Regions from separate parts of the Homo sapiens genome. Here regions 2 and 3 are each linked to region 1. Evidence: fine-mapped expression QTL. A gene starts in region 1. Each other region holds a variant in brackets. All regions are shown on one strand. Distances are between the middles of the regions. Region 1 holds the start of DR1 (down-regulator of transcription 1). Region 2 overlaps CCDC18 (coiled-coil domain containing 18). Region 3 has its middle 47 kb from the start of FNBP1L.

Evidence for each region.
Region 2: its variant is fine-mapped to the expression of DR1 in whole blood (TOPMed, PIP 0.95).
Region 3: its variant is fine-mapped to the expression of DR1 in whole blood (TOPMed, PIP above 0.99).

What each region holds. Positions count from the first base shown.
Region 1 is chr1:93,339,908-93,350,564 of GRCh38, reverse strand. It overlaps DR1 (down-regulator of transcription 1), which reads right to left and starts at 4,658. Exons shown (of 3, transcript NM_001938.3): 1 at 3,700-4,658. The coding sequence starts at 3,919. CCDC18-AS1 (CCDC18 antisense RNA 1) reads left to right here and starts at 4,754. Exons shown (of 9, transcript NR_034089.1): 1 at 4,754-4,841; 2 at 10,055-10,107. RefSeq lists enhancers at 3,819-4,028, 4,089-4,158, 4,528-5,063.
Region 2 is chr1:93,229,012-93,239,668 of GRCh38, reverse strand. CCDC18 (coiled-coil domain containing 18) reads right to left here. Exons shown (of 29, transcript NM_001378204.1): 18 at 7,076-7,243; 19 at 3,279-3,421; 20 at 196-359. Among named protein-coding and RNA genes, the nearest start is that of CCDC18, 54 kb to the right of the region's middle. The variant G/A (reference allele first, on the strand shown) is at 5,147.
Region 3 is chr1:93,395,368-93,406,024 of GRCh38, reverse strand. No RefSeq gene overlaps it. Among named protein-coding and RNA genes, the nearest start is that of FNBP1L, 47 kb to the left of the region's middle. The variant C/G (reference allele first, on the strand shown) is at 5,472.

The DNA.
Region 1 (10,657 bases):
TGTCATAACATGAATTTATGTGACTCACTTTATACTTCATATGCATAAAACATGTTTTTCATTTGTAAAATTACGTGATATACAGTACCTTTTAAATACTATATAAATCAGCATTCTCTAATTTCTCCATTTTCTTTTGTTTGTGGGAAGGAAGCAACTAATGTATTTCACATAAAATACATTAAGAGGATGTAGGCCAAAGTGACTTCTTGGCTCATTAGCCTGGCAAAGGTTTCTGAAACCCCTTAAGAACCATGTCCTCCATGGTATCACTACTGGAAATCTTGGACAACAATGAGAGACTAATGGCAGAGAAGGAATTGAGTATCATTTATCTTAATATCCTTAGTAGTACCTAGCATGATGCCAAATAATTGGTAGTATTCAATAAGTAATTGTGGGGTGGCAGAAGGAAAACAGAAATAAAAGATATATTAATTTAAAGAAAAGTATTAATAAAATCCTAACTTGAAAAGCATTTGATTATGTGATAAATTTTGCAGTGCAAATTAGATGTGTCCCTTCGGAAAAAATATCTGTATAAACGATTATTTACTACTTACGTCCACTTTCCAACAGAGACTGGTTTAGGCTTTAGAGCAAAGGTTCTCAAACTGTGGTCCATGGACTTATGCCAAAACTGCTCCTAATGGTTAACATTAGTTAAGTATGGAAATTCAAAGCATTTAAGTACCTTCATTGCAATTTGACAAAATAATTTTATGTCTATTGAATCAAATAGTAAAAAATTGAGTGTTGGTCTTTCCCTCATCTTTTCCAGTGATCTATTTTCATGTTATCTTACAAAGCTACTAGTGTGAGAAGGACAGGAATTTTTTAAAAATTCCTTCAACGTAAGACAGCTTGGAGCAACTCAACAGCTGAAGACGCAAATTCTCAGATACTCTTTCAAACTTTTACTACTTTCAGTTACAATTCTCATAAATGTGAGGGGAGATATTTCATGTAAGGTTCTCAACCCCTGACTAATTCTCAAAAATTACAAGTAATACCTGAAATCAAGTATTATTTGTACACAAATAAGAAAACCTTAGTTAAAAGATTTCCCTAAGGTTAAAGAATTCTCAGTGCGGAACTTACAGCTGACTCTCAATGTCAATTCTTTCTATAAGGCAACAGAACATGTTAGAACTCATTCAAGAATACGTGTTCACAAAAAACTGCAACAAAATAGGAACACCTTTTATAGCTTAGAACTCCCTCTATTCATGTATCTATGGTCTTCAATACCAAGTCTACTTTCTTAAACTCAAAATAAGCAAAACAGAAAAAAAAATTTTTTTAAATAAGTTATTTCATAGATATACTGGTGATAAAATTAGTTCAACTTTAACTTGCATTTTACAGAACTATCTCAGAATGCTTAATTTGCTCAGACAAGATAAAGCAAGGTGAGAAATGAACAAGTGAAATGTCCTGAAGCAAAGTCTAATTCATTAAACTTATCACTAAAAACCCAAACTTCAACATGTGAGAATCATATCACTTTAAAATGTACATTACTTATTCCATTTGGATATATTCTACATTCCTAATCAATGCTGACAGAAAAGTATAAAAATGTCCTATTATGATTAGTGTATAGGCACACACTTCAAACACCTAAAACATATAAACCTTAAGAATTTCTTTAAAAATGTAATCTCTCAAAACAAAACTTCTTTGGAATAATTAAGCAATATGAGATTATAAATGTATAAAGTCTACAACCCCAACTAGGGAGAATTCTTGGGCGAAAATGTAGATTCTTAACCACTTTTAAGAATAGCATAATACAAGAAAAAAAGGTAAATTTTTAAATTTAAGGTAACACGTCAATACATGATTTTTAAAAACAAATCATCTTCATTACACAATGGAAATGCTTTTTCACTATAGCTTTCTGACTCACACATTAAACTGAATTTAGCATATTCCAAAGTTGAATTATTTAGCATACTGCTTGCTACAGCTGCACTTCTATTCCATCATGTCAATCAGAAATCTAAATATATCCTAGAAAAGAATCAACTCTCCCCAAGAAGACAGACTGTAATGTGTTATTAGGTTTTTGGAACGATCCCCACTTCTGTAGTGTAAACAAATGTTTAGGCAGACCCTGCTGAAATCTTTTGCAATTTTCATTAGAAAGGCAATGTTGATAAAGGTTCTTTTTCCTTTTTAAGAGTTGTAAAAAGAAATTATAGCTATCTGTGCTGGATAATCTTGTGAAAGACTTATGACAGCAATCACACATACAATGTAAAAATAAATACACAAGGGAAAAAATAGACAACTTGGCTTTCATTTTACTTGCTAGAGTATTCAGCACACCAAACAAGTAGAAAAAAAAAAAACTAGTACTAGTTTTAAGAATCAAATATGCTTTTTCCTAGGGATTTTTCTGCTTGTGTACTGAAATGGCAGGATATATTTTAAAACTACTTTCAAGACGTCATAAAGGATTAAAAATGAATCATTTAATCCTTTTGTCAATACTGAGAGTAAAATATTGGATATGGTCAATATAAGCAGATGTGTTCTCTACTTCAGTACAACAGGAAAGTCACATTTTAAAAAGTTAAATTATAAAAATTAAGTGATAGACAACCACCTGCCTATCAAAATGATTAAAATTAATCATTTTTCCCTGATTTCACAAGCAATCAATAACTTTAATTAGATTATTACAAAAGGCAAGTTCTCACCTCAAATTGAGTACAACTCTTTCACAAGAGTACATGTAAAAATATCGCAAAAGGTACGTTCCCGAAACATTATGAATAGTAAATATGTTTCTCCTCTCTGAAACCACCAGAATACAGTCCCCCAAATCCCTATTACGGGACCAAATCCTTTCCAGGATAAAAGAAACTGTTGAAGTTTTCAGAAGTGCTGTTCCATAAAAGCCTAAGTGTATACATTCAAATAGGAATGACAGCAGGAAAGGACGGGGAAATTTTCCGTTAAAAAAAAAACTTGCATAAACTTTCAATCAAAGATTTCAAAACTTATCTCCACAGAATAGAACAAAGCAAACGACATAAAAGCAAACGAAAAGAAAAAAACGAAAATTTAAAGTTCACCCTATTCTTACAGAATGGAACAGGAGTTATTTGGTAACTCATTCATGAACGTACCATCAAACCATTTTTAGAGCAGAAAACATACACCTTTTATTTAACAACGATAAACTTGACAACGTTGAACACATTGTATGTTAAGAATTTTTTAACTCATGTGTTCAGAAAATAAATCTTTTCCTCTACATTGGTGAAAGGTCAGGTGGGGAAGGGGGTGCTCTGTCTCCACCCACGTTGAAGTTCCTCCGTCTGAATTTTAACTTTCCAAAGGAGAATTTCTGCGTTCCTTAATTATTATCTAAGTTCAACTTCAGGCAAGTAATTCTTGTTGCTTCGGCTTACCTGGCTGTAAAGTGAGATCACTCTTATTCTTTACGTTTTGGGGACGCTGACCTAAATGTTTGCACTCCTTACATGTATTCGCTGGATGAAAAGTACTGCAAAAATGCTACAAAGGGATTGTTTTTAAAGCACCGGCTGCCTACATGCCAGTCTGGCTTTTTCATTAAGTTACTTACCAGGGAAGAGGAATGGAGGCTTTGACACGAAAGGGTCACGCGATTAGCAGACTGCTACCCTAGAACCTCATTCAAACCAGCTCTCACACACGACTTACCTTGTATGACATGCTCTGGTGAGATGGTCTTCTTTTCCGATTTGTTACAAATCTCATTGGCTTCAGAAGATATAAGGTGAATGAATTCAGTGCAGCAGTTCACCACCAGCTCTCGAGCATCGTTGGCCACCCGGACATTAGGAAGAGTCTCTTTGATCATTTTATTGATAGCAGCTCTGGGGATAGTGAGATCATCATCGTTGCCAGACGAGGAAGCCATAGTACCTTCCTGTTTCTCGCGCCCCGGCTTTTAAAAACTCCCCAGCTCTGGTCCACTACTCCACCGAGATTTCTCAAAAAGTCGCCCTCGGAGAGTGATCCCGGGGGGTGCTTTGCGAAGAGGGTGCAGAAAATGAACGGAGGAGCAGCTGGCTTGAGGGCTGGGAACACTCGCGTGTGTGAGAGATTTAGGATGAGTTTGGGAAGAAAGTGGGGGCCCGAGGATTCTAGAGAGAGCACAGCCCAGGCTGAGGAGGGGAAAGCGCGGTGGTCCGGAAATTTGAGCGGCTGGGGAACCACCTTCGTGTCTCCTCAGAGGGGCGGGCGCTGTCGCCTAACTGGTCCCCAACGGCGTCGGAGCAGAGGCAAGATCCAGGGGCACTGGCCTCGCCGCGGTACCGGGCGGGTACCCAGCGGGCTCGGCTCTATAGAGCCCGAGGCCCCGCTGCCGCTGCCGCCGCCGCCAGCAGCCGTTGCCGCCGCCTCGGCCAAACCATCCTTCAGACACCCGCGCCGCCGCCTCACAACATGTCCGCCGCTGCCGCTGCCGCTGCCGCTGCTGGAACGGCGACGGCCGCCTGGGAACTAATATGGACAGAGCCAGGCACAGTGGGAGTCGCAGTGGCTGCCGCCGTGGCCGCGTAGCCCGAACGCAGATCGTGGAAGCCGAAGACGCGGCAACGGTGGTCCCTCCAGATGCCAGGGAAGGTTTGCAGGAAGCCGCTCCCGACACCCTTTGCGCCACCGGAAGCCTCGTTCCCTCAGATTTCCCCCTCCCTCCCGGACCGACTTCCGGGTGTGGCTGCCGCCCTTCCCCCACCCACGCCGGCGGGAGCCGCCCGTTCGCGCTGCCAGCAGCTTCCGCCTGCTACGGTCCTGGCAAGCACCTCGGGATCCCATTCCTTCACAGGGACCCTAGCCAGGCAAGCGCGCGCCTCACTGTACCGGAGAGCTCCAAGCACGCGCTTGGTCTGGGGCCCGGACGCTACATCTGGGAAGGGGTGGGTGGCTGGGTAGATAGGCGAGGAAGGATCGTCTCTACCCTCTCTCAAGTAGCTGAGGCCTCCGAAACCTTCCCTAGCTGGATTTGGGGACAGAGGAGCGCTGGTATTGATAAAATAACTCTCTTTGCTATTCCTTTAGGAGCCCAAATGAGGATTGAAAGTGAGAAGAATGGGACCTGGGCTTGGGGGTGGGAGGTGGGGAAAGCAGAACCCCGTGTGCCTGTTTCTGCGTCGTCTGGAGAAAAAGCTTTTCAAGATGTCTGATAGACCTTATTCGGTTCAAAGCTCTCTAAAGTCCTTCACCTTTTTTTTTTTAAACTTCATGAAAAATGAAACATTTCAGAGAAGTTACTTGCCTAGAGGCAACTAAGTCGCCTAATGGCTAAGTAGGAAAGCAGAAGTCAGTTCCAACATAGTGGAAATGGAGTGGAAATGCATGGCATACAATGAGCTATATTAGAAGGTTCCCATTTAGACAGTTTTCATGTTGTATTCCATGTTGGCTTCTACAGGGGAAAAAAGTGTTAGAGCATCTTAAGCAACTGTTTTTACTTCTTTCCATAGTGACTAGTAATATCAACAGGTGTCAAGGTCTAAACAGAAATTGCATTTAAAAAAAAAAAAAGTGTGTCAGCCAGGCGTTGTGGCTCATCATACCTGTAAACCCAACACTTTGGGAGGCTGAGGCAGGGGGATCACATGAGCCCAGGAGTTCAAGACCCGCCTGGGCAACATAGTGAGACCCGTCCCTACAAAAAAAAAAAATATATATATATATATATATAATATATATTTATATATATAAATATATATTCCAACATCCCACTGTTTATAGTATAGCCTCTTCTATATGACAATATGAAACACGGGTTTTTTTTTCACCAGGCTTGGTGGCAGGCACCCGTAGTCCCGGCTACTCTGGAGGGCGAGGTGGGAGGATCGATTGAGCCAGGGGGTCAAGGCTGCAGTGAGTTGCGGTTGTGCCACTGCACTTCCAGCCTGGGTGACAGAACAAGATTCTTTGTCTCAAAAAAGATAAAAAAAAAAAAAAAGTAAAAAAACTGAGTCTGTCATACTGTCATGTGGAAGAAGAGGCTATACTATAAATAGTGGGATGTTGGAATTTCTAAAAACTAAACAAGACACTGTTGAAATCCATTTTGTCACTTTGGTTCATCAGATTCATTACTCTTGATACATATGATGGCAACTGGCTTGTTGACAGTGTTTTCTTAAAACGTTCTGTCTGAGCCCTATATGCTGCTCTCAAGAAGACATTACAGTTTATTATGCTATTTTTTCATTTAGCATTTTCTGCAGGACAACTTACTGGTTCTTTAATTTCTGAAGTGTAGACACTTGTTTTTCAGTGCTACTAAATTTAGTCAAAACAAAATTTCTTTGATTAAAAACAGTATTTTAATTAAATTTTCTTCAGGCTGGGCATGGTGGCTCATGCTTGTAATACCAGCACTTTTGAGAGGCCAAGGGGGGCGGATCACTTAAGCTCAGGAGTTCGAGACCAGCCTGGCCAACATGGTGAAACCTCACCTCTTCTAAAAATACAAAAATTAGCTGGGTGTGGTGGTGGGCACCTGTAATCCCAGTTACTTGGGAGGCTGAGACAGGAGAATCGCTTGAACTCTGGAGGCAAAACTTGTAGTGAGCCAAGATCGTACCACTACACTCCAGCCTGGGAGACAGAGCACGACTCTATCTCAAAAAAAAAAAAATACTTTATGAAGTGGTGGGTTTGTTTTTTTTTGTCAGTTTACTGTTGATTTAAAGATTTATTATGGTGCCTAAATTTATCTTGACCTTAACAAGTTTATCCGTCTGAAAAAGCTGGCTGGCAAAAAATGTCCCAAGTTGTCACAGTGTCACTGACCCTTATCTTGTCTCTCCTGAAAAAACTATAACTTTGCTTTTTCATGTAACATTTATGTTTATAGACTTATGCTAAATAGACGAGTAGAGCACACATTATTTCAGTAATAGTTTATTGCTACAGGCTTCTGTGGTAGCATAAACAGAATTGAATGTGTAGTAAGAGTTGTAGGTTCCAGTCCCAGCTTTTTTTTTTACTTAGACAAGTCACTCTCCAAGCCTCATTTTCTTCAGTTCAGATATAGAAATATTATGTAACACACAGGATTCAAAATCAAATGAGAGTTGTGTGAAAGTACTTTTTATAGTATGAAGTGTTATATAATGTTAGTGTCTTTTATCATCTTTATCAGGCTTGGTCAGTCTTCAACTAGTAATGAACCATGTAACTAGTTTATTACATACGTGGCTGAGAGAAATTTAATTGGATATAAATACCAGTGTGATATGTCATAAAATATGCTAATCTGTAGCCCATATTTAAATAGTTATTTATAGTACACTACATGTATCTGTATTATAAATAGGCTTTTAAGGACAAAGAGAACATCTCCTTATTAAGCTTTAAGAGTTTCAGAGAGAATGCATATATATGAAACTTTTTTTTTTCATGTTGTCTAGGTGTGGTAGTGCACACCTGTGATCCTACCTACTTGGGAGGCTGAGGTGGCAGGATCACTTGAGCCCAGGAGGCTGAGGCTGCAGTGAGCCATGACACTACTACACTCCAGCCTAGGTGACAGAGTGAGACCCTGCCTCAAGAAAAGGAAAAAAAAAGTTTAGCCTCAGAGTAGGGTTAGGGGAGTGTCACTGTCAAAAACAGTGGAGTTGAAAGGGAGCTGTTTAGAGAAGATGTGCTTGCTTTTGCACATGTTTGGGCAGGCATTTGTAGAAGTGGTGTCCTATAGAAAGTGGAAAGAGAAGACAGCATCTGATTTCTACATTCATTCAATAACTGTCTAGTGTCCTGACTATGATGTGGGAGAAATAAAGATGAATATAACTCCCACCTTGTTCTTGAAGACCCTATAATCTGGTGGGAGAAGCAGAATATAAACCAGATTCAAATAAATATTGTGATAAAATATACAGGCTAAGAATGCATGGGAAGAAGTGATTAACACACTAGTTGTGGAGTACAAAGGGTTTTATGGAGGACTGGATATTTTAACTGCACCTTGAAGATTGAGTACAATTTTGATAGGGAAGGAAAGAGCATGTAGCTGAAGAAAAAACACAAAAGTACATTGTATGGCTTGGGGAAATAAAGTAGTCTAGAGTGGCTCTATTAATAAGGTTTGTAAAGAGGTGTAGTGGTATATGATGCAGGAAAAGTAGGTTAGGGCAAAAAGAAAACAGATCAGTGCCTGATATGAATTATACACTGGGCCAAAAGTTTTTCATATTTGCTATTTCATTTAATTTCCATATAGCCATGCAAAATAGGTGTTTTGACATGGGGGGAAAACAGTCTCAGAGAGTTTTACTAATTTGTTCAAAGTCTCACAGATAATAAGTAATGGAGCTGAAATTTCAAACCAGGTTGTTACTTAACTCCAAAGCTGAAGCTATTTGTAATTTGGTAACTATCTCTAAATTAAAAAAAAAAAGGAAAAAAGGTTATATTCATTATAGGACTTTAAAAATATAAAGCACTTTCACATGTATTTGGTCTTTATAACTAGTCATTAATCCCAATTGATGGATGGGAAAATTGAAGCCCAGTGAGATTATTCAAGGTCACAGAGTGAATAAGTGGCAGATTGGAAATGCAACCCAAGCTTTCTGACTACAAAGTCTCAAGTCTTTCCACATCATTTTAAGAAGTCTGGAGATCCTTTTGTAAGCAGTGGAAAGAGTTAGTGAACATTTTTGAGAAGGGGGATGACATAAACAATAATGTTTAAAAAGATTAGTTTGAGTTCGCATGTGAGATGGTCTGGAATGGACAGAGACAAGAACATTAATTATTAAGCTATTGTAAAAATAGTAATGATGTAGACCTGAACAAAGAAAGTTTGGTGATAATAAGATAAAAGAAACAAATTAGAGGCATTTGGAAACAGAATTTACAGGATTTAGCTTCTGCCTGCATCTACCGTGAGATACGAGGACCGTGCCTAAATAATAATGGAGGTGGGGACAATGATGGTAAGAAGAGGTAGATTTGGATGGAGAGAAAGAAATAGCTATCCAAATGGATGTATCCAGTGAGAGTTGGACAGCGGAGATGTGGGATCATATAGTAGGGCTATGTAACAAGTCCCTCTATAGCAGGGTTTGTTTAAGCTAGACTGTAAGTACCCAGAGCCAGTGAGGGTCTGGTTTATTTCTGCATCCCCAGAGCCAGGACAGTCCTTGGCACTCAATAAATATTTGTTAACTTTGAAACTGGATAAAGACCTTTAAGGATGGTAGAATTTTTTGAAAAATGTTCAAAGACAGAAAGCAAAAAGAAGAAAATATTTGAGGAAAGATTTGATAGAAACCAAGAAGCATTATGTAAAGGAAGTCGTGGGGAGAGAGTTACAAGAGTGTGAGATGCCACAGAGAGGCATTGTTGGAAGGGGATCAAAGATAGTGTTACTGAAGTAAAAGTTCAGGAAGAGAGATCGGAAGTCAACATGCAAAGAACTGAAGAGGAATGGGGGGAGAACTAGAGCCAGGCAGCAGAGAGTACTCTTTCAAAAAGTTTGGTGGTGAAGGAAAAGGGAGCAATGAGAAAACACCTTAAGGAAGAAGCAGGGTCAAGGAGGAATTGCAAAGGCACATGTAGCTCAAGGGAAAGGAGCCAGAGAAGAGAAGCAGATTGAAAATACAAGCAAAATGAAGCTCAAAGAAATGGAGGAGGATGAGATTGAAAAGACACAGATGGAGTGATCAGGATTAGGTATACAGATCTGAGCATGTTTCACAGAAAGGACAAGTTGAAGCCAAATTATAGGTGAGTGATTATAGACAGTGATTGCAAAGGGAGAAGAGCAGAAGACTAAGGAAATATTTAGAGAATGACCACAGGCAAGGGCAAAGGAGGGGTCAAAGAAACAGCAAGAGAAGTTGTGTAAATTCATTGTCACAAAAACAGATACACAACCAACCAAGTTTGAGAAAAAGAAGTAGCCCAAAGTGTCAAGCGTTGCAGAGGAGGATGAGAACTGGGAATAAATGGTATATATCCAGTATATTTGTACAAACAGTTCATGAACAAACACCTTAGAATTTTTTTTTTTTTTTGGTCTTTTCAGTTAAAGCTGATACATTCCTGTGGGTCAACTATGCAACTAACTCAGATTTTGAGGTGAATAGCAAATCTCTTTATCTATAGATGATAAGTTTAAATTGTGATGCAAATAAATTTTTCTTTCAAATGGTGTGAATGTTGAATCTAATTCAGTCCTGCTAATTTTGTTTAAAAAGCATTTGAAGCAGATGGAACTGGAAAGCCTACTTCTGTAAATTCCATTTACTCATTCATGCATTGCTTTCATTCAAGAAATGTTTATTAGTGTCTACCATATACTTTGCTAGTTACTGGGGTTATGAGGGGATATGGCAATAAACAAGAAAGACAATGTCTATTGCCTGAAGAAGTAATACCAAAAGAAGAAAAAACTATTTGCTGTATTGTTGGTAATAGAAAAATATTAATTTAACTTTTAAAAACAATTGAAACAATGATTAATTATAGTAAATCTATTTGAATAACTTATGTAGGCATGAAAATACTTATGAATATTATATATGAATATGGTAATTTTCCTCTAATATTAAAACTAAATACAACATTGTTATTAGAACAACGTGAAAATACATATGTACATGGAGAAAGGCTCAATAGAAATGCAAAC
Region 2 (10,657 bases), 110 kb after region 1:
GAATAATTTTATAACTATATGTAAACCATTTATTACAAACTTTGTATATATTAAGAATATTCAATTATATTCATCTACGAGAGGCAAAATACCACTTATTTTCCCTTCCAGCCCCACCATCTCAAATTCTCACATTATTTCACTTCGTTAAGTACAAATACATAGGCAGCTATACTCATCTAACCACTTGCTTACCAGCATTTGTTTTCTTTTCTAGCTCTGTCTTTGTCTGATCTAAGATCATATCTAATTGAGAGAGGTGCATTGCTTTATTTTCTCCATCTCGTTTTAGGTGCATTATTTCCTTTTCCATTTTAGACAGCTCTTCTTTGTACTGATCCATCTCAATCTTTACTTGCCTAATTAAAAACAAATAATAAAACAGGTAATTTAGAAACTTAACCAACTAACTTGTCTCTGACTAAAAAAAAAGCCTGCAAGTTATATAAGGACAAATATCAGCAAAATATCTAGTTGGAATTTTAAATCACCTATTTTTAAAAATTCTCCAACTAAAAACTATTCCTTTACACATTACATACCACTAAATACAACTTTACTACTACTACCTGGTAATATTTAACAAGCCTAGCATTCTTTTCACTCTAACCACATTTAACTTTAGCTTTGCATGTATTGAAAATATCCAAGGACCTCATTCATCTAGGAATTTTTGTTATTAGCAACAAAGAAAATAAATAAGCCAAACAATCAAATTATTCACCATAAAAACCATATTACTCACTGGAGAGCCAAGTCAATTGCTTTTACTCAGTTTTATTATTGGTTCTATCCTTTTTTTAGCTTTAAAAGGAACTAGAGATTCCTAGACTAGTGCAACTTCCCTGCTTTACAGAGGAGGAAACTGAAGACTAGGTGAGTTGTCTGAGATAATACAACTAGCTGTTAATAGTGATAGGGCCAGGTTTACTAACTTTGTCAGTCCTGAACTTATTCTAATACGGCAGCTCCCCTACAGACAAATCAACATACTAAGAGCCAGTTTTAAGTCCCTTTGTTGGTAATTCTAAAGTGATATTTACTAATTAAACAATTGTTAATGTTACCCTCAATGGTAGGAAGAGTTCATGTTCCTTTGTGTCAACACTTTCTGTTGTTTGATCTTTGAAATTTCTAAATTGAGTTTGCAAGTAGGAGCATTTCTTTTCTAGATAAAACTTCAACAAATTTGGATTTGTTCAAGAGTTTTTTAATTGGAAGTCCATGAGTAAACTTAAGGAAAACTATAAAACCCCTGAAACAGTATGCAAAATTATACATGTATAATGTACATGTATACATCTATGTATAGAAGACAAGCTAAAGCTTTTTACCAGATCCTCAAATATGTCCATAGACCAATTAAGTACTAGATTAGATGAGTGCTAATGACACTTTTACATTTCTAAAATCCCAAGTAAATAATTTTTAGCTTGACCAATTAGCTCTAATATTAAAGTAGATATAAAACAGATAATTAGAAAAGAATAATCAAAAGAGATTGGCATAGAGCCATGAGCAGATGGCTTGTCAGCAAAGGAGTTAGGGGAAAATTATAGAAAATATACAAGGACTCAAAAAGCATTAGCAGCCTACAGACATTTTATAAAAAACAGAACTGTATATGCCTCAAAGTTTCATTAGGGTATCACTACATTTTAGCATGATGTATATAATGATAACCCTGAGATACCCAGAGAAAGTAAAAACCCCAAGAAAATATACATTTTAGAAAATTTCTACCAAAAAATGTTATTTGGTTTTGATTTAAATTTTCAGCACAAGATAAATTCCATGGGAGTAAGTGGCTGAGGTATGTTAAAGATCAGGATCACTAGAGTACAGAAATTGTTAAAAATGAGAAGCCAAGGTGTCAGAAGGATCAGCTTCAGAGGTGTACTGAAATCCCCAAGAAGAATGACAGAAGTGATGCTGGAGAGGGCAACAGTAAGTCAGGCCGTCTAAAGAAATCAGCACCAGTAAGGGTTCTGATGGCATGAGGTTCACCAAGTATAGTATATACTTCACACCTTGCCTGGACCCTGTGGTACAAGAGCTATGGGGAAAAGTTTTTTACTTTAGAAGGCTACAGGGGAAGAAGCAATGTCCTTAGGGGAGGGCCAGGTTTCTATTACAGCAAGAGAAAAGAAAAAGTAGTGAATACAGAGAATGGATTATGAAGTTCAAAAGGCACAGTAGAAGTCTTTCAGAAGTTGGGATGGGGTTGGAGAAAGAAACAGAATGTGTGGAGAGTTTTTTGGGAATTAGTGTGAGATATGAGAGCTGACCTGGAAATCTAGGGTTTCTTGTGGTATCTGGCATAAACAAGGATAAAGTGATAATGCAGTCAGTCTTCACAGACTCAAGGTGGACACCAGTGGTGAGGCCATGTTAGTGAGTAGAACATCTGTCAATGGAAGAAAGAAGGTGTGAAATACTTTGGTCTTAGTCTTAAACTTGGGAAGCCCTCAACCCTGCTGAGAGGGTGACAGACATCTGAGGAAGCAAGTTGCTCCTCTGAGCACAAAGGACCCCTGTCAATGGAGGAGAGGGAACCTGGGGACATGTGGTTTTAGTGCCAGTGCCTAAGTTCACTCTTGACTCCTGTTGGTAGAAGGGTGGGCTGATTATGTTATAAATTATGTCAATTCTTCCCAACAAAGTAGAAGAGATCTGAAGAGGCTGGGTACTGCTTTCAGCTCATGGGTTCCTTTCTTGACCAATTAAGTATCGATGCCTGGGACCAGCCTAGCCAAATTAAATCAGAATCTTTAGGTTTTATTTAATCTAAAAGTGGGACCCAGTCATCAGTATGTTTTTTTACAAGCTCTTGAGGTGATTTTAATATTCACTCAAGGCTGAGAACCACTTTTATATTGTCATTCTTCCCCTATATAATTGGATTGCCTGAAAGTTTCCTCTATGTGAGTACATTTACATTTTTGCCTACAACTTTTAATGTTATTCACAATTAACAGTTGCTGAGTGCCTATGAGGTATAAGGAACTGTGCCAGTTGTTGTGTAAGACCCTAAAATAAACCAGGTATGATCCTTGCCTTAAGAAACTTATAGTAGGAAGGTTAAAAGCATTAAACTGTAATACAGTAAAAAGCATAATGAGAGATATGAAGGAAATACAAACAAAATGCAATAGGAACACAGACTATGGAGACATTAATTCCTCAAGCAAATGCTCCACTGAACATTATCTGATTTCAAAACTCAGATACCACTGATATTGAAGTGGGAAGGTAAATAAAACATATTCACATTTTACCTGGCAGTGCCAGTAAGCTCAATCACTTTTTGCCTTTTCAAATCTGCTTCATGTGCAGCTGATTCACATTTCTCCTCCATTTTTCTCAACTTTTCAGCTGAACTTTCCCTTTGTTTTTGAAGTTCTTGTTCCAGTTTTGACACCTTGTAAAGCAGTTTTCAGTAAACATTTTAAATTCAGAAGAAAAATACTTTTATAAATATGTAACCTAGCTTATCAGTTTCAAGATGTATCATAAAAATCAACATATAGACCAAGAAGTAATGTTTGGAAAATATAAAAAGCAAGGCTTACTTTCTAATAATAAAGATACTTCACATACATATTACTATTTAGGGAAGTGGCCACATCATAACACTAAAGTGTTAAAATAATTGAACAAAATGATAGTAAATATTCCCCTTTTCATTGTCCCCATTTGAAATGCCCTTTCTTCTCTTACCATACTGCTCCTTTCTTTTCTTCACGAATTGGCTCACTCAATAGATTCCTAGATTTCCACATGACCTCAAATGCTAATTTGCATTTGCTCCCATCTTAACTTGAATCTGTTCCTATTCATTCTTCCTCTATTCTACTACAATAAAGGAGGTATTCTTCCTCCTTTATATAAATCAAACTGCTTCATAGGTGTTGTGGATTCAATTCCTATTCATTTTTTCAGGAACTTCATACTACTATCTCCTCTTTCCAATATCTTCAGTCTCTCTACTGTTTTTTTAATATTAGCATTTAAACATGTTAAAAGACTTTCCCACTGTAAAAAGCTTTTCTTCAGACCTTGACCTCCCTCTACCTACTACCCTTTATTTCCTCCCATATATAGCCCAACTTCTCAAAGTTTTCTATGCATGTTGTATCACTGTCTCACTTCTCATTCTTCAACCCATAGCCAGAGGCCATTCCACAGAAACAGGGATTACAACACCAGTGACTTCCAAGTTGCTAATTCCAATGGACATTTCCCAACCTTCATTTTACTTGACACTGATTCCAGTAGCCCATGACAGCAACATTCATTCCTTCCTTAATGAAATACTTACTTTGGCTTCCATGTATCACATCCCTCAGGGATCTGTCCAAGTCAATCTTCTTGCTTCTCATTCTATATTCTCTCCCTAGGTAATTTCAGTCACTCCATGTCTTCATGAATATTTATATGACTGTGGTCTCAAAGTTAACCTCTCAACTCTGACCTGCATATCCCCCGTTCTTCTAAAATCCCTCACTGAAGAACTAAATATAGATCATAAACCATTAATATCTTGCCAGGTGCGGTGGTTCACACCTATAATCCCAGCACTTTGGGAGGCCAAGGAGGGTGGATTTCTTAAGCCCAAGAGTTCGAGACCAGCCTGGGCAACATGGTGAAACTCTGTCTCTACCAAAAAAAAAAAAAAGAAAAAAAAAGAAAAGCCACACACACACACACACACACACACACACACACACACTCTTAGCTGGGCATGGTGGTATGCACTTGGAAGGCAGAAGTGGGAAAATCACCTGAGCCCAGGGAAGTTGAGGCTGCACTGAGCCATGATCATGTCACTGCACTCCAGCCTGGGTGACAAAGTAAGACCCGGTCTCAAAACAAAACAAAACAAGAAAACCCCATTAATATCCACCCCTCCACCTCAAGTTTCAAGAAGAAAATTAAAACAGTACCCAGGTAAAAAGGGAAAGGAACCAAGGAAAATCCACCTACTCAATTCTTAATTAAATAGAGAAATCTGAAGATGCAAAATGGAACCTATGCACAGTGTAATATGAATGAAAGGCAGAAAAGGAATACCAAGTCAAAAATTTACTCCAAATACTGAAGAAATTTTTAGATATAAACTTCTGTAGACCTCAGTGAAGCTAAT[G/A]AGAACACAAAATCTTTTAAAACAAGATCACAAAGAAAATCACCAAATAAAAAATACAAATGAGGCCAGGCGCAGTGGCTCACGCCTGTAATCCCAGCACTTTGGGAGGCTGAGGTGGGCGAATCACAAGATCAAGAGATCAAGACCATCCTGGCCAACATGGTGAAACCCCGCCTCTACTAAAAAAACAAAAATTAGCTGGATGTGGTGGTGCGCACCTGTAGTCCCAGCTACTCGGGAGGCTGAGGCAGGAGAATCACTTGAACCTGGGAGACAGAGGTTGCAGTGAGCCAAGATCGCACCACTGCACTCCAGCCTGGCGACACAGTGAGACTACGTCTCAAAAAGAGAAAAAAAAGAAAAAAAAGTGAACTTGTTAAAAAAAAACAAAACAAAACAGAAAAAACCATACAACCATTATAGAAGTGAGTTAGGAACAAGAATCATAATCAATCCTGCAAGAACCAGAGTCAATGACAAAGGATGTAGGCAGTGGGAATCAAACATAGATGAGAAGAAGAAATGCTTCAGGATGAAGCTGTATAGTAGGCATAGCAAGCAGTAGGTCTAAATTTTAACAAAAGGGATGGAGAGTCACAGGAAGATGTCTCTTGAAAAAAAATAGAGGCCAGGAGCAGTGGCTCACGCCTGTAATCCCAGCACTTTGGGAGGCCCAAGTGGGTGGATCACCAGAGAAGGGAGTTTGAGACGAGCCTGACCAACATGGAGAAACCCTGTCTCTACTAAAAATACAAAATTAGCTGGGTGTGGTGGCACATGCCTGTAATCCCAGCTACTCAGGTCGCTGAGGTGGGAGAATCGCTTGAACCCGGGAGGCGGAGGTTGCAGTGAGCTGAGATCGCGCCATTGCACTCCAGCCTGGGTGACAAGAGTGAAACTCCGTCTCAAAAAAAAAATACAGAATACCTGCCTGATGTGTTTAAATGTAGTGAGAGGAAGATACTTTAGTTCCACTGGACAGGCTGAGGAGGACTTCAGAACAAGTAGATAAAAGACCGAAAAAATGACAAAAAAGGAAAATACAGTAAGATTACAGGGGACGATCATTTTCTAATTTACACATTACTGTAAATTTGATTTCTTTTCAAAGAAAAAACAAAATAAGAATGTAAAATATCTAAAGAATTCAGATAAATTCAGTAATGAATTAAAGGAAAAAGATTAGATTCTAGTATAAAATTCTCTAGAATTCTTACATTCAAGTAAGTAATAATTTTTAATTTTAGAACTTTCAGGGGTATTTTCCCTTGGGATTTTTCTTTTAGTGCACTGCTTTGCCATTTCTTTAAGGAATATCACATACCATGTCCTGATCCAAAAAGGAAAAATTATAGGTATTCAGATTAGGTACAAGAAGAGAGATTGAATAAAGAAACATGAATTATAAATTGTATGGAACAGCAAACATATAATCATGGTATAAGAGATGGAGGTCAGATTACATAGGAATAGAACTTTATTTTACAATATCAGTATAGAGTATTTCTTATAATGCAAAATCCTTGAGGTTTAACAGCAATTTTTTTTTTTTTAGGCGGAGTCTCACTCTGTCGCCCAGGCTGGAGTGCAAGGGCACGATTGCAGCTCACTGCAACCTCCACCTCTTGGGTTCAAGCAATTCTTGTGTCTCAGCCTCCTCAGTAGCTGGGGTTACAGGCATGTGCCACAATGCCTGGCTAAGTTTTGTATTTTTAGTAGAGACGAGGTTTGGCCATGTTGGCCAGGCTCGTCTCGAACTCCTGACCTCAGGTGATCCGCCTGCCTCAGCCTCCCAAAGTGCTGGAATTATGGGCACGAGCCACGGCATCTGGCCAAACAGCAATTTAAAAAACTAACGAAAAATCTATTCATGATTTTAAAAATTTCTATTTCATACAAATAAAACAATCTTGGGCTAATAATATATACCTGTTTTTCAAGTTTAGTTTGAGTATCTTCTAGCTCTCCATTTCTAATTGTCTCTTGTTGTAACATTTGCTGCTGTTGCTGAAGAGTATGCTGTAGAATAACGTTTTGCTCAGAAGTCTCTTGAAGACTGTGATTTTTTATCTTTAGCTCTTTCTGTAAACAATATACCTGGCAAATATATATATATATCTCTCAATACAATGCAATGTTTCAAATAAATGGCAATAAAATGTCAAAGCTGTCCTCCTTATTAGATAACCATCCACTTGTCATGTGGGACAATTGCATTCATGTCTATAGTTTGTCATTGGAAGGACAGTATTCATTTTTCTAATGGGGAGATGTACTGGAAGGGCTTGCTTATAGGATTGCTCTTGGTTGGTGTCTGGAAATGTGGCTTTAAAAATGTTCCTAAGTGATGAGGTTGTTTTGCCTGGCTGGGGCACTGAAACATGCCTTCCTTTAGAATTCTGGAATTTTTGATACTTGTAGGCTGGTCATTGTTCCTGTGTGACAAGCCCCCAATAAAAACCCTGAACTTTGAGTCATAAATAGGCTTCCCTAGGCAGAAACAGATATTGCCACATTTTACTGCTATAAAAAGGAGCATGTTCTGTCTGACCTCTCCCAGAAGGAGGGAACAGCATAGGCAGCCATGGTTTTATCTGCACTTCACCTGATTCTTTCACCCTTTCTAATAATAAACTAGAGCCATAAAAGCACTATATGATGTTTGGTGCTATTTATTGTTATTGTTGCTATTATTGCTGTTGTTTATATAATAATATCCCAGCAAAGCACTGCTGAATATTTATGCTACAAAAAAACACATAAAGGAATGACAATAACAACTAAGAAATTTCACTAATTACTCTATATATTTAGGACTTGAATATGATGGTCTCCAAAATTGCTTTAAGATACTTTTATCCAAGAGCACCTATTAAGAAGAAAAATAAATTCCCTTTGTCCTAGTAATCCAAATTCTAAAAATATGCCAGCAGAAATTATTTTTAAAATACTATCAACAATGAAACATAATTTAAAATATATTTTATAATATTCTTCATCTCCTACCAAAGTGAATGGAAGATTTAATAAGTGATGATTGTCAATGTGATTTAAAATGTGCAACCATTTAAAATAATTAAAAAGACAGCTAACATAAAAATTTATAAAGTTAAAAAATCACATTTCATTAATATAATTTTGAAAAATATACATGCAAACAGAAAAATGAAAACTGAAGTATTAGAGAATGGGCTGTAGGTAAATGTTCTTTAGAAGTTTTCTTGTTGTTGCTTATATAATAAATTTTTTAAGTGAAGGAAAATAAAGCCATTCCTTTAAAGCAAAGAATCTTTCCAGTAAATATCATTCCAAAAGGAAATTTAAACTCCTTATAGTAAATAGCGGAAGAGAATCACGACTTGCTTCTTTTTTCTAACTATCCAGCAGGTGAACATTAAGGCCTTCAGGGCCAAATATTCTTTGCTCATTATGAGAAGCTCTGAGATTTCAGATTTCTTAATTATATGATGATGTTGTATACTCGAAGTAACCCTGGATATCACAGGCAACTAACTGATCTCTAATCCTGAATTATAATCCCTTTTCATGCAAATATGTTTTGTTTAATTCTGTCTGCATGAAAATAATTTAGTGTAAATATGTGTCAGTATCACCTGTTTTGTTTTCTCTCTTAGCTCCTGACCAAACCTGCAGATCACACTTCTGCACTGGTTTATTTTAGATAGAACTGACTTGCCTGCAAGACAGGTTTAAATACTCTTTTTTTCTTTATTGGAACATCCTGTTTCATACTTACCTATTCAGAGAAAAAAATGGACAAAATATTAAAATAAGACAAAACAGAAGAAAAAAATAAGATCTAACCAAAACACAAAGCCTTACCACATAATAACAACAAAATTTTATTTCAGTAATCTAGTCACTGACATTTCAATTACATATATTGAAATAGCTAAAATTAGTTATCACAAATATTTACAAAATAGAACATATATCTATCAAACTTACACTGACATTTCATTGTACTGACCTTTAACTCCAGTCGGCTTTAGTTTTTTGTTTTTTTTTTTGAGATGGAGTCTTCCTTTGCCACCCAGGCTGGAGTGCAGTGATGCGATCTCGGCTCACTGCAAGCTCCGCCTCCCAGGTTCACGCCATTCTCCTGCCTCAGCCTCCCAAGTAGCTGGGACTACAGGCGCCCACCACCACGCCCGGCTAATTTTTTTTTTTTTAATTTTAATAGAGATGGGGTTTCACCGTGTTAGATCTCCTGACCTTGTGATCTGCCTGCCTCAGCCTCCCAAAGTGTTGGGATTACAGGCATGAGCCACCGTGCCTGGCCAGTTGGCTTTAGTTTAAAAGTAAATACAGAACAAATTGTTTTTACATCATATTTTCTACTAATGTATTATTATATTCCCAGAGTACTTAATATTTTATAATTGAAGTAAATAAGAAAGTAGAATTTAGATGATAAAATCTACCTTACACTTAACTTTATCTAGTATCACTATGTACCCAAAGCAGAAAGTCTCATAATTGTTGCTTAAAAATAAAATATAATGCAGAAATATGATGCCAGCTTCTCAAAATCTAAGTCCATCCATTTAAATGAAGATATTTATCAATGAAACGACTGATTTTATTGAATAAAATCTTTATGCAGAAAACATTTAGGCTTAGTCGCATCTACTTTGTATTGAGTTTCTTTTATCATGTTGACAATGTAATTTTGCATGAACACATAACTTTATTATTTTAAAAGCATTGTTAAAAACATTTTAATATGAAATTAAATATCTTCCAAAAATTCAGAACCCCAAAGTATTATTTTCATCATAAATATATTTATTTCAACATCCGGAAAAGAATATGTGGCTGAGGCAAAAGCTCAGAGGAACATATATTAGCTTTTTGCAACGGGTAATCAACATGTAGTTTTTACAACTGGCTAAATTTCTACCTATATGCCCTAGGGCCACTTAATTATTCAGTGAGTTATATGATTGGGGCATATTCCCTGATTTAAAAGATAAGAACATCTTTATAATATCACCTATTATTAACGGAATGGATGCACTATTACTCAAATCAGATTTTCTAAAATGTAGCTATATATGATGAAAACTTCACAACTCTGCTGTTACAAGGTGTTAATTATATTAACCAACATTAGAAAGAATTTTCTCTGTAAGACATAATTTGCTGTAAAGGCAAATAAGTCAACAGTTAGTACTTGGATTCTTCTCCACGTTTTTTATCAATACACATGAACATGTGACAGATGACCTTTTAAGTAAGCAAGCCAATGCATGTGCAGTTGAGCTAAGGATTGAGCGGCAATAAATGAGCTTGCAAATCTTTCTAATTTACTTACTCCCTAGTCTGGTCAAATATACCTGATTACCACTTCTGGTTTCTAATTCAGTTTGAGCCTAGGTATGTATTTCCAGTTGTAAAAATCATTCTAAATGAGCCAGGTGTGGTGGCACATGCCTGTAATCCCAGCTGCTGGGAAGGCTGAGGCAGGAGAATTGCTTGAACCTGGGA
Region 3 (10,657 bases), 55 kb before region 1:
ACGAGCAAAATAACCAGCTAACATCATAATGACAGGATCAAATTCACACATAACAATATTAACCTTAAATGTAAATGGGCTAAATGCTCCAATTAAAAGACACAGACTGGCAAATTGGATAAAGAGTCAAGACCCATCAGTGTGCTGTATTCAGGAAACCTATCTCACGTGCAGAGACACACATAGGCTCAAAATAAAGGGATGGAGGGAGATCTACCAACCAAATGGAAAACAACAAAAGGCAGGGGTTGCAATCCTAGTCTCTGATAAAACAGACGTTAAACCAACACAGATCAAAAGAGGCAAAGAAGGACATTACATAATGGTAAAGGGATCAATTCAACAAGAAGAGCTAACTATCCTAAATATATATGCACCCAATACAGGAGTACCCAGATTCATAAAGCAAGTCTTTAGAGACCTACAAAGAGACTTAGACTCCCACACAATAGTACTGGGAGACTTTAACACCCCAGTGTCAACATTAGACAGATCAACAAGACAGAAAGTTAACAAGGATATTCAGGAATTGAACTCAGCTCTGCACCAAGCTGACCTAATAGACATCTACAGAACTCTCCACCCCAAATCAACAGAATACACATTCTTCGCAGCACCACACCACACTTATTCCAAAATTGACCACATAGTTGGAAGTAAAGCACTCCTCAGCAAATATAAAATAACAGAAATTATAACAAACTGTCTCTCAGACCACAGTGCAATCAAACTAGAACTGAGGATTAAGAAACTCACTCAAAACCACTCAACTACATGGAAACTGAACAACCTGCTCCTGAATGACTACTGGGTACATAACGAAATGAAGGCAGAAATAAAGATGTTCTTTGAAACCAACAAGAACAAAGATACAACATACCAGAATCTCTGGGACACATTCAAAGCAGTGTGGAGAGGGAAATTTATAGCACTAAATGCCCACAAGAGAAAGCAGGAAAGATCTAAAACTGACACCCTGACATCACAATTAAAAGAGCTAGAGAAGCAAGAGCAAACACATTCAAAAGCTAGCAGAAGGCAAGAAATAACTAAGATCACAGCAGAACTGAAGGAAATAGAGACACAAAAAACCCTTCAAAAAATCAATGAATCCAGGAGCTGGTTTTTTGAAAAGATCAACAAAATGGATAGAGCGCTAGCAACACTAATAAAGAAGAAAAGAGAGAAGAATCAAACAGATGCAATAAAAAATGATAAAGGGGATATCACCACCGATCCCACAGAAATACAAACTACCATTGGAGAACACTGTAAACACCTCTACGCAAATAAACTAGAAAATCTAGAAGATTTGGATAAATTCCTCGACACATACACCCTCCCAAGACTAAACCAGGAAGAAGTAGAATCTCTGAATAGACCAATAACAGTCTCTGAAATTAAGGCAATAATTAATAGCTTATGAACCAAAAAAAGTCCAGGACCAGATGGATTCACAGCCAAATTCTATCAGAGGTACAAGGAGGAGCTGGTACCATTCCTTCTGAAACTATTCCAATCAATAGAAAAAGGGGGAATCCTCCCTAACTCATTTTATGAGTCCAGCATCATCCTGATACCAAAGCCTGGCAGAGACACAACAAAAAAAGAGAATTTTAGACCAATATCCTTGATGAACATTGATGCAAAAATCCTCAATAAAATACTGGCAAACTGAATCCAGCAGGACATCAAAAAGCTTATCCACCATGAACAAGTGGGCTTCATCCCTGGGATGCAAGGCTGATTCAACATATGCAAATCAATAAACATAATCCAGCATATAAACAGAACCAATGACAAAAACCATATGATTATCTCAATAGATGCAGAAAAGGCCTTTGACAAAATTCAACAACGCTTCATGCTAAAAACTCTCAATAAATTAGGTATTGATGGGACTTATTTCAAAATAATAAGAGCTATCTATGACAAACCCACAGCCAATATCATACTGAATGGGCAAAAACTGGAAGCATTCCCTTTGAAAACTGGCACAAGAAAGGGATGCCCTCTCTCACCACTCCTATTCAACATAATGCTGGAAGTTCTGGCCGGGGCAATCAGGCAGGAGAAAGAAATAAAGGGTATTCAATTAGGAAAAGAGGAAGTCAAATTGTCCCTGTTTACAGATGACATGATTGTATATCTAGAAAACCCCATTGTCTCAGCCCAAAATCTCCTTAAGCTGATAGGCAACTTCAGTAAAGTCTCAGGATACAAAATCAATGTGCAAAAATCACAAGCATTCTTATACACCAATAACAGACAAACAGAGAGCCAAATCATGAGTGAACTCCCATTCACAATTGCTACAAAGAGAATAAAATACCTAGGAACCCAACTTACAAGGGATGTGGAGGACCTCTTCAAGAAGAACTACAAACCACTGCTCAAGGAAATAAAAGAGGATACAAACAAATGGAAGAACATTCCATGCTCATCAGTAGGAAGAATCAACATTGTGAAAATGGCCACACTGCCCCAGGTAATTTATAGGTTCAATGCCATCCCCATCAAGCTACCAATGACTTTCTTCACAGAATTGGAAAAAACTACTTTAAAGTTCATATGGAACCAAAAAAGAGCCTGCATTGCCAAGTCAATCCTAAGCCAAAAGAACAAAGTTGGAGGCATCACGCTACCTGACTTCAAACTATACTACAAGGCTACAGTAACCAAAATGCATGGTACTGGTACCAAAACAGAGATATAGACCAATGGAGCAGAACAGAGCCCTCAGAAATAATGCCGCATATCTACAACCATCTGATCTTTGACAAACCTGACAAAAACAAGCAATGGGGAAAGGATTCCCTATTTAATAAATGGTGCTGGGAAAACTGGCTAGCCATATGTAGAAAGCTGAAACTGGATCCCTTCCTTACACCTTATACAAAAATTAATTCAAGATGGATTAAAGACTTAAATATTAGACCTAAAACCATAAAAACCTAGAAGAAAGCCTAGGCAATACCATTCAGGACATAGGCATGGGCAAGGACTTCATGTCTAAAACACCAAAAGCAATGGCAACAAAAGCCAAAATAGACAAATGGGATCTAATTAAACTAAAGAGCTTCTGCACAGCAAAAGAAACTACCATCAGAGTGAACAGGCAACCTACAGAATAGGAGAAGATTTTTGCAATCTACTCATCTGACAAAGGGCTAATATCCAGAATCTACAATGAACTCCAACAAGTTTACAAGAAAAAAACAACCCCATCAAAAAGTGGGCAAAGGATATGAACAGACACTTGTCAAAAGAAGACATTTATGCAGCCAAAAGACACATGAAAAAATGCTCATCATCACTGGCCATCAGAGAAATGCAAATCAAAACCACAATGAGATATCATCTCACACCAAATAGAATGGCGATCATTAAAAAGTCAGGAAACAACAGGTGCTGGAGAGGATGTGGAGAAATAGGAACACTTTTACACTGTTGGTGGGACTGTAAACTAGTTCAACCATTCTGGAAGTCAGTGTGGCGATTCCTCAGGGATCTGGAACTAGAAATACCATTTGACCCAGCCATCCCATTACTGGGTATATACCCAAAGGATTATAAATCATGCTGCTATAAAGACACATGCACACATATGTTTATTGCGGCACTATTCACAATAGCAAAGACTTGGAACCAACCCAAATGTCCATCAGTGATAGACTGGATTAAGAAAATGTGGCATATATACACCATGGAATACTATGCAGCCATAAAAATGATGAGTTCATATCTTTTGTAGGGACATGGATGAAGCTGGAAACCATCATTCTCAGCAAACTATCACAAGCACAAAAAACCAAACACCGCATATTCTCACTCATAGGTGGGAATTGAACAATGAGAACACATGGACACAGGAAGGGGAACATCGCACACTGGGTCCTGTTGTGGGGGGGGGGAAGGGAGGAGGGATAAGATTTGGAGATATACCTAATGTTAAATGATGAGTTACTAGGTGCAGCACACCAGCATGGCACATGTATACATATGTAACTAACCTGCACGTTGTGCACATGTACCCTAAAACTTAAAGTATAATAAAAAAAAGAAAAAAAAAGAAAAAGTAGGTCACATCTTGAATGCTTTGCTGCTTAGAAATTCCTTCTTCCAGATACCCTAAATCATCTCTCTCAAGTTCAAAGTTCCACAGATCTCTAGGGCAGGGGTAAAATGCTGCCAGTCCCTGTGCTAAAGCATAGCAAGAGTCACCTTTATTCCAGTTCCCAACAAGTTCCTCGTCTCCATCTGAGACCACCTCAGCCTGAACTTCATTGTCCATATCACTATCAGCATGTTGGTCAAAGCCATTCAACAAGTTTCTAGGAAGTTCCAAACTTTCACACATTTTCCTGTCTTCTTCTGAGCCCTGCAAACTATTCCAACCTCTGTTCATTACCCAGTTCCAAAGTCACTTCCACAGTTTTGGATATCCTTATAGCAGTGTCCCACTACCTCAGTATCAATTTACTGTGTTAGTCTGTTCTCACACTGCTATGAAGAAATACCTGAGACTGGGTAATTTATAAAGAAGAGAGGTTTAATTGACTCACAGTTTTGCATGCCTGGGGAGTCCTCAGGAAATTTTCAATCATGGTGGAAGGCGAAGGAGAAGCAGGGACTTTCTTCAAAGGGCAGCAGGATGGAGTGAGTGCAAGTAGGGGAAATGCCAGATGCTTATAAAACCATCAGATCTCGTGAGACTCACTCACTATCATGAGAACAGCATGTAGGAAACTGCCCCCATGATCTAATTACCTCTGCCTGGTCCTGCCCTTGACACATAGGGAGTATGGGGATTACAATTCAAGATGAGATTTTGGGTAGGGACAAAGCCAAACCATACGGCACAAGACATTAATCAATACATGTAAGATTTACTTTGGCTTGATCTGGAAGGATGGGACAACTCAAAGCAGGGGCTTCCAGGTCATAGGTAGATTTAAGCATATTCTGATTGGCAATTGGCAATTGGTAGCAGGCTTCAGAGAAAATAGATTGTAAATGTTTCTTATCAGACTTAAGGTCTGTGTTGATGTTAATGCTGGAGAGGTATAATAAGGTATGTCCAACCCCTCCCACCCTTCCTGTCAGTCATGGCCCCAACCAGTCTTTCAGGTTAAATTTTAGAGTGTCCTGGCCAAGGAGGCAGTCCATTCAGATGGTTGAAGGGAGGCCTTTGAATTTTATTTTTGGTTTACGTTCTGAAAGGACTGGGAACCCCAAGACACATAAGCTATCAAGCAGCACACTCTTTGTTCAGAATGTGCCAAGCTCTCAGGGGAGTTTGTCTCTTTTTTTTTTTTTTAAGAGACAGGGTCTCACTCTCTCACCCAGGCTGGAGTGCAGTGGTGCAAAATAGCTCGCTGCATCCTCAAACTCCTGGGCTCAAGGGATCCTCTTGCCTCAGCCCAGTGGCTGGGACTACAGGTGTGTACCACCATGCCTGGCTAATTTCT[C/G]TCTCTTTTTTTTGTTTAGGGGAGTGGGAGATGTTGCCCAAGCTGATCACGAACTCCTGGCCTCAAGGGATCCTCTTGCCTTGCTTCCCAAAGTGTTGGGATTATAGGTGTGAGCCACCACACTCGGCCAGGGAAGTTTGTCTTCATAAGAAGTCTTAACCATAAGGGACTTTTGTTGCCTCGTTAGTTCTGGGAAAGTCTAATCCAAAGAGAACCTACCTGTTGTCACCAATTAAAGGATCTGTGACTGGTAGTCCCCTATAAATTTGTGGGTTATTGAAGTGTAGAGGCTAAAGCAATTCCATTTTGAATGCTTATCCACAATGTTGACTTCTGATTCCCTGTTCTGAGAATACCTCTAAGATTTCTACTTTACTGTTACTGTAAATTCTGCCCTTAGGTCAAATAACCTTGACTTTAAATCCTGCCCTTTGGCAGATTCACATAGCATTCTTGCCTTTCCCTGGGTGTTGACTTCACTTGTCCTACACATTCCTCCCCTGTGGTATGTAAACCCTGGGCCTGGGAGGGTAAATGGTGCAGGGATCCACTATCTTGTCTTGCCATCAAACAAGACACAGAGATGGCTTCTCTTTGTTAATTCCCTATTAAATCTTTCTTCCTGAAAAACTGGATTGTCAGCCTGTTTCTTCAGCCTCTCAGCTTCCTTAAACTTTGGGGGTAGATTTGCATAGACTTGCTCCCTGCAGAACATGAAGGAACAGTGCACACAAACACCATTCTTTACCATCTGTGACAAGAGGTTTTTGCTATTTTGGCCTATTTCTGGGAGTGAATTTGGGGAAATCATGGGAATTAGCTGTTCTATGCCCTCTCCAGGGATACGCTTGCTTATGTGGTAAAAACTTATTCCAAACCTGGAAAATTACCTGCTGGTCTATCCATGAAGAGGTTTATTGAATTGAGTTGCTATTGAAATAAATACATAGTTGGAAATTCTAATCGTTAGTGGCCAGAAGATGGATCCTTTGGACTAGAAAGACTCCTATATCTGAAAAATATTTTACTCCATTCTAAGTAATTGCCTTATTTGTTTTTGTGGGAGGATCAAATTGAAAGAAAGACACATATTAGTGTCATGACTAGCCTTAGAAATTCTCCTTAAAAAAAAAAGCAGAAATCAGATTTAAAACAAAGTTAAAATCCTTTGTACACTAAAACTGCCTGCTTTGGATTCCCCACAGGATTTAAAAAGGAGACATTTCAACTTGTAGTCTAGTCTTATATTCCTAGATGTAGGCCAAGCTAACTTTGGGAAGAACTTAGTTTATAGTTTAATCTTAAAGCAAAGATGATAATAACCCCTTCCCCAAGCTAACCCACCTTTGCAGAACTAATGAAAGGCCATAAGGTTAGGATTATGAGTGGGGTCTGAATGCTGATAAGATGTAGATATAGTTTCTATAATCCCTTACTTCTCAGGAGTCAAGTGGCCAGAGGTCACAAGATTTGTGACCTCTCCAATTGCTCCTATAGATCACATCACTATTGTAGAACCTGACATTGGTGTTTTGAGATTTTTTTCAGACTGTCTTGCAACTAACTGACCCCATCTGGACCCATGACTCATAACTCAACTGGTCCTGTGGCCCCTATCCAAGGTGGAGTTGGCACATGTGGACCATTTTCCATACCCCTATGATTTCATCCCCACCCAATCTGCAGCACCCATTCCCTATCCCCCTGTCCACCAAATTGTCCAAAACGTTGGCTTCCCGGAGACTTGTTATCCCATTTACTTTTATTCTTCCTTCCTTTTTTGCCACCTTTGATACCACACGAAGAGATCTAGAGGGGACTCTTAGCAACTATGACACTCCTTAAGGAAGACCAAAAAGGTGCCTCTGACCACATTTTGGGGTCTCCTGTCTTCTTCATGAAGCACCAAAAGTCATGAGAAGGTTCTTCTCAGGTGTAAAACCCTAACTCCTGAGCCTTCGTGGAGACTGATTTGAGTGATAACTCCAGTTCTTCCACATGGCTGACCTTACATCAATTAAACTCTTTCTCTATTGCAATGCCATGCTCTAAATGAATTGATTCTGTCTGTAGAGCAGGCAGGAAGAACTCATTGGGTGATTACAGGTTTGATATTTGTGTGTAACTCTTGACTTTTGGAGTACCCATTTATTACTGTTCTTGTTCCCTTCCATGGACAGCTTTTAGTTTCCTGTCTTACTAATTGTTTGTCTATTTTAATCTTCCCTCTATGGGGCATGCAATTGCTGAGACTTTATGTGAAGATGGTTAGTTGATAAGCCAAGACCCTAAAGAACATGGTTGGTCAGAAATGTATATTGTACCCCATTTGCAACTAGTAAATTTTTTTTCCTTGAGCTGTCTTTGGGGTAGTTCTGGTTCTTGTGAGAACTGCTTTGCACCTTTTTGGAGATGCCTTATGCATCCTTGGTTAAGTCATAAAAGGCTTATAGGTTTTGGTTGGAGTCACTTGGAAGATAACTTTGATTTAAAGAAGTTCAAAACCAAGAATATTGGCTGTTTGTCATGGCTAAACTCTGACAGATTTTAAAAGATTGTTTTTAAAAAGCTTTATGTGGTCAGAAGCCAGCTTAATTAAAAACTGATATTCAAACTAAAAGTTTTTTTAAGGCCTTTCTGCTTTTTCTCTTTTGGATCTTGTTTCTCCCATGAGAATTTTTTTCAGTTTACTGAAACTCTTTATAAAAAGTTATATGTTTGGGCTGGACATGGTGGCTTATGCCTGTAATCCCAACATTTTGGGAGGCTGAGACAGATCATTTAAGCCCAGGAGTTCAAGGCCAGCTTGGGCAACATATGGAGAACTCATGTCTACAAAAAAAAAAAAAAAATTACCTGAGTATGGTGGCATGCACCTGTGGTCCCACCTACTTGGGAGCCTGAGATGAGAGGGTCACTCGAGCCTGGGAGGTCGAGGCTGCAGTGAGCCATGATGGTGCCAATGCACTCCAGCCTGGGTGACAGAGTGAGACCCTGTCTCAAAATTGTATGTGTGCGTGTGTGTTTATGTACATATACATACACATGTGTGTGCGTATATATATATGTGAGTGTGTAAAATATGTTTCATCCCTCTGTTTGCTTCCTTTCCTGTTGGTATAATTTTTTGCTTAGAAAAAGGTAAAACTTCACTGACTTTTTTTGAGAAGTTTTAAATCTCCCCAAATTGGCTTCCCTGAGACTTATTATCCCATTTACTTTTATTCTTCCTTCCTTTACCACCTTTGATACCACACGAAGAGATCTAGAGGGGAACCCTAGCAACTATGACACTCCTTAAGGAAGACCAAAAAGGTGCCTCTGACCACATTTTGGGGTCTTCTGTCTTCTTCATGAAGCACCAAAAGTCATGAGCAGGTTCTTCTCAGGTCTAAAGCTCTGCTCTCATTTGCACTGAGCTCCCTGACAGCTTTGGCTTTGAGGGTACCAGAAGTTACTTTGTACTGTGAGAGAATACCTGATCCTTGAGTATGCAATGGCTGGCTCTACATTCAGTGGCTGCAGTCACTGGTGAGGGCTGCAGTTTTGGAGGTGGCTGACAGTGGTTGCAATGAATAGGTATTACACAGAGGCTACTTTTTTTTATTTTTATTTTTTGCATGGCTAGATTTTTTTTTTTTTTTTTTTTTTTAATGAGACAGAATCTCGCTCTTTCGCCCAGGCCGGACTGCAGTGGCGCTATCTCGGCTCACTGCAAGTTCCGCCTCCTGGGTTCACTCCATTCTCCTGCCTCAGCCTCCCGAGCAGCTGGGACTACAGGTGCCCGCCACCACGCCCAGCTAATTTTTTGTATTTTTAGTAGAGATGGGGTTTCACCGTGTTAGCCAGGATGGTCTCCATCTCCTGATCTCGTGATCCGCCCTCCTCGGGCTCCCAAAGTGCTTGCATGGCTAGATTTTTTAAAAAGTACATTTTGGAAACTTGGAGGCTGTAGGAACACTCACCACCAAAGGATAAGACTCCTATGGGGGATAGGCTGATCACAGAGTGGGCTGGAGTCCTACCAGCCTTGGGGGACTTTTATTGAGTCACCCACCAGCCTTGGGGAACTTTCCTTCTAGTGAGATACACTGTAGAAGATTGCACGACCTGTTTCCATGACCTTTCTCTCTTGGACTTTTGCCTCCACTCTGAGAAACTGGAATTCAGTGTGAAAATGGGGTCATAAATTTCTAGGATCTAGGTGCTCTGCCTTCCAGCTGTGTCTGCTTTTCACAAATACCAGTATTAGGCCCAGGAAACTGTAAGCATTTTGTTGGCATTATTCATTAATGGGCTTCACCCTGAGCTGAGTGGTCCAATTGGAAAATGGAGACTAAATTGAAAACTACCTAACTAAAATTGATCTCCTTATAAAATCCTGTGGTGAATTCCTATAATTTTGTGTTACCTAGGCATCTATTTTTAATCTTTCTCTAACACACCCTGACTTCTTCTTCAGAAAGCTTAAATTCTCTTTGTGCTGTGAGATATAAATGTGCTACACTGTTTTCTCTAAAAAAAAACAAAACAAAACAAAAAACAAAACAAAAAAAACCCTTATAAGGGCTTTGAATATGTGGGACAGATAAACTTTAACTCGTTCCATTTACAATGACAGAGTTTGAATTCAACTGCCCTTTATGTGAGTTTTACCTGTCTTATTGCTAAAATTTTTAAATCAATGCTATAAAATCTTTACTTATGTTTGTCTGTATTTTATGCATACATGTGTACATGGCTGCCTTTTTATATTATCTACATGGTACCAAATTGACTTTTAAATAAATGAGTGTTCATAAATTAAATAATCAGCCAAAATGCTTTTCAAGTTCATGTCAATTTAGTAATATCTGGCAAAGAAAAACTAGTTTTTAAATTGTCGGCAAGGCCAAGTGCAGTGGTTCACGCCTGTAATCCCAGCACTTTGGAAGGCCAAGGCAGCAGGACTGCTTGAGCTCAGGAGTTCGAGACAAGCCTGGGCAACACAGGGAGGCCTTGTCTTTACAAAAAGTAAGAAACAAAAATTAGCTGGGTATGGAAGCACATGCCTGTAGTCCCAGCTACTTGGGGAGCTGAGGTGGGAGGATTGCTTGAGTCTAGGAGGTGAGGTTTCAGTGAGCCATGATTGGGCAACAGAGCAAGACCTCATCTCTGCAAAAAAAAAAGTATAAATTAGCCAAGCA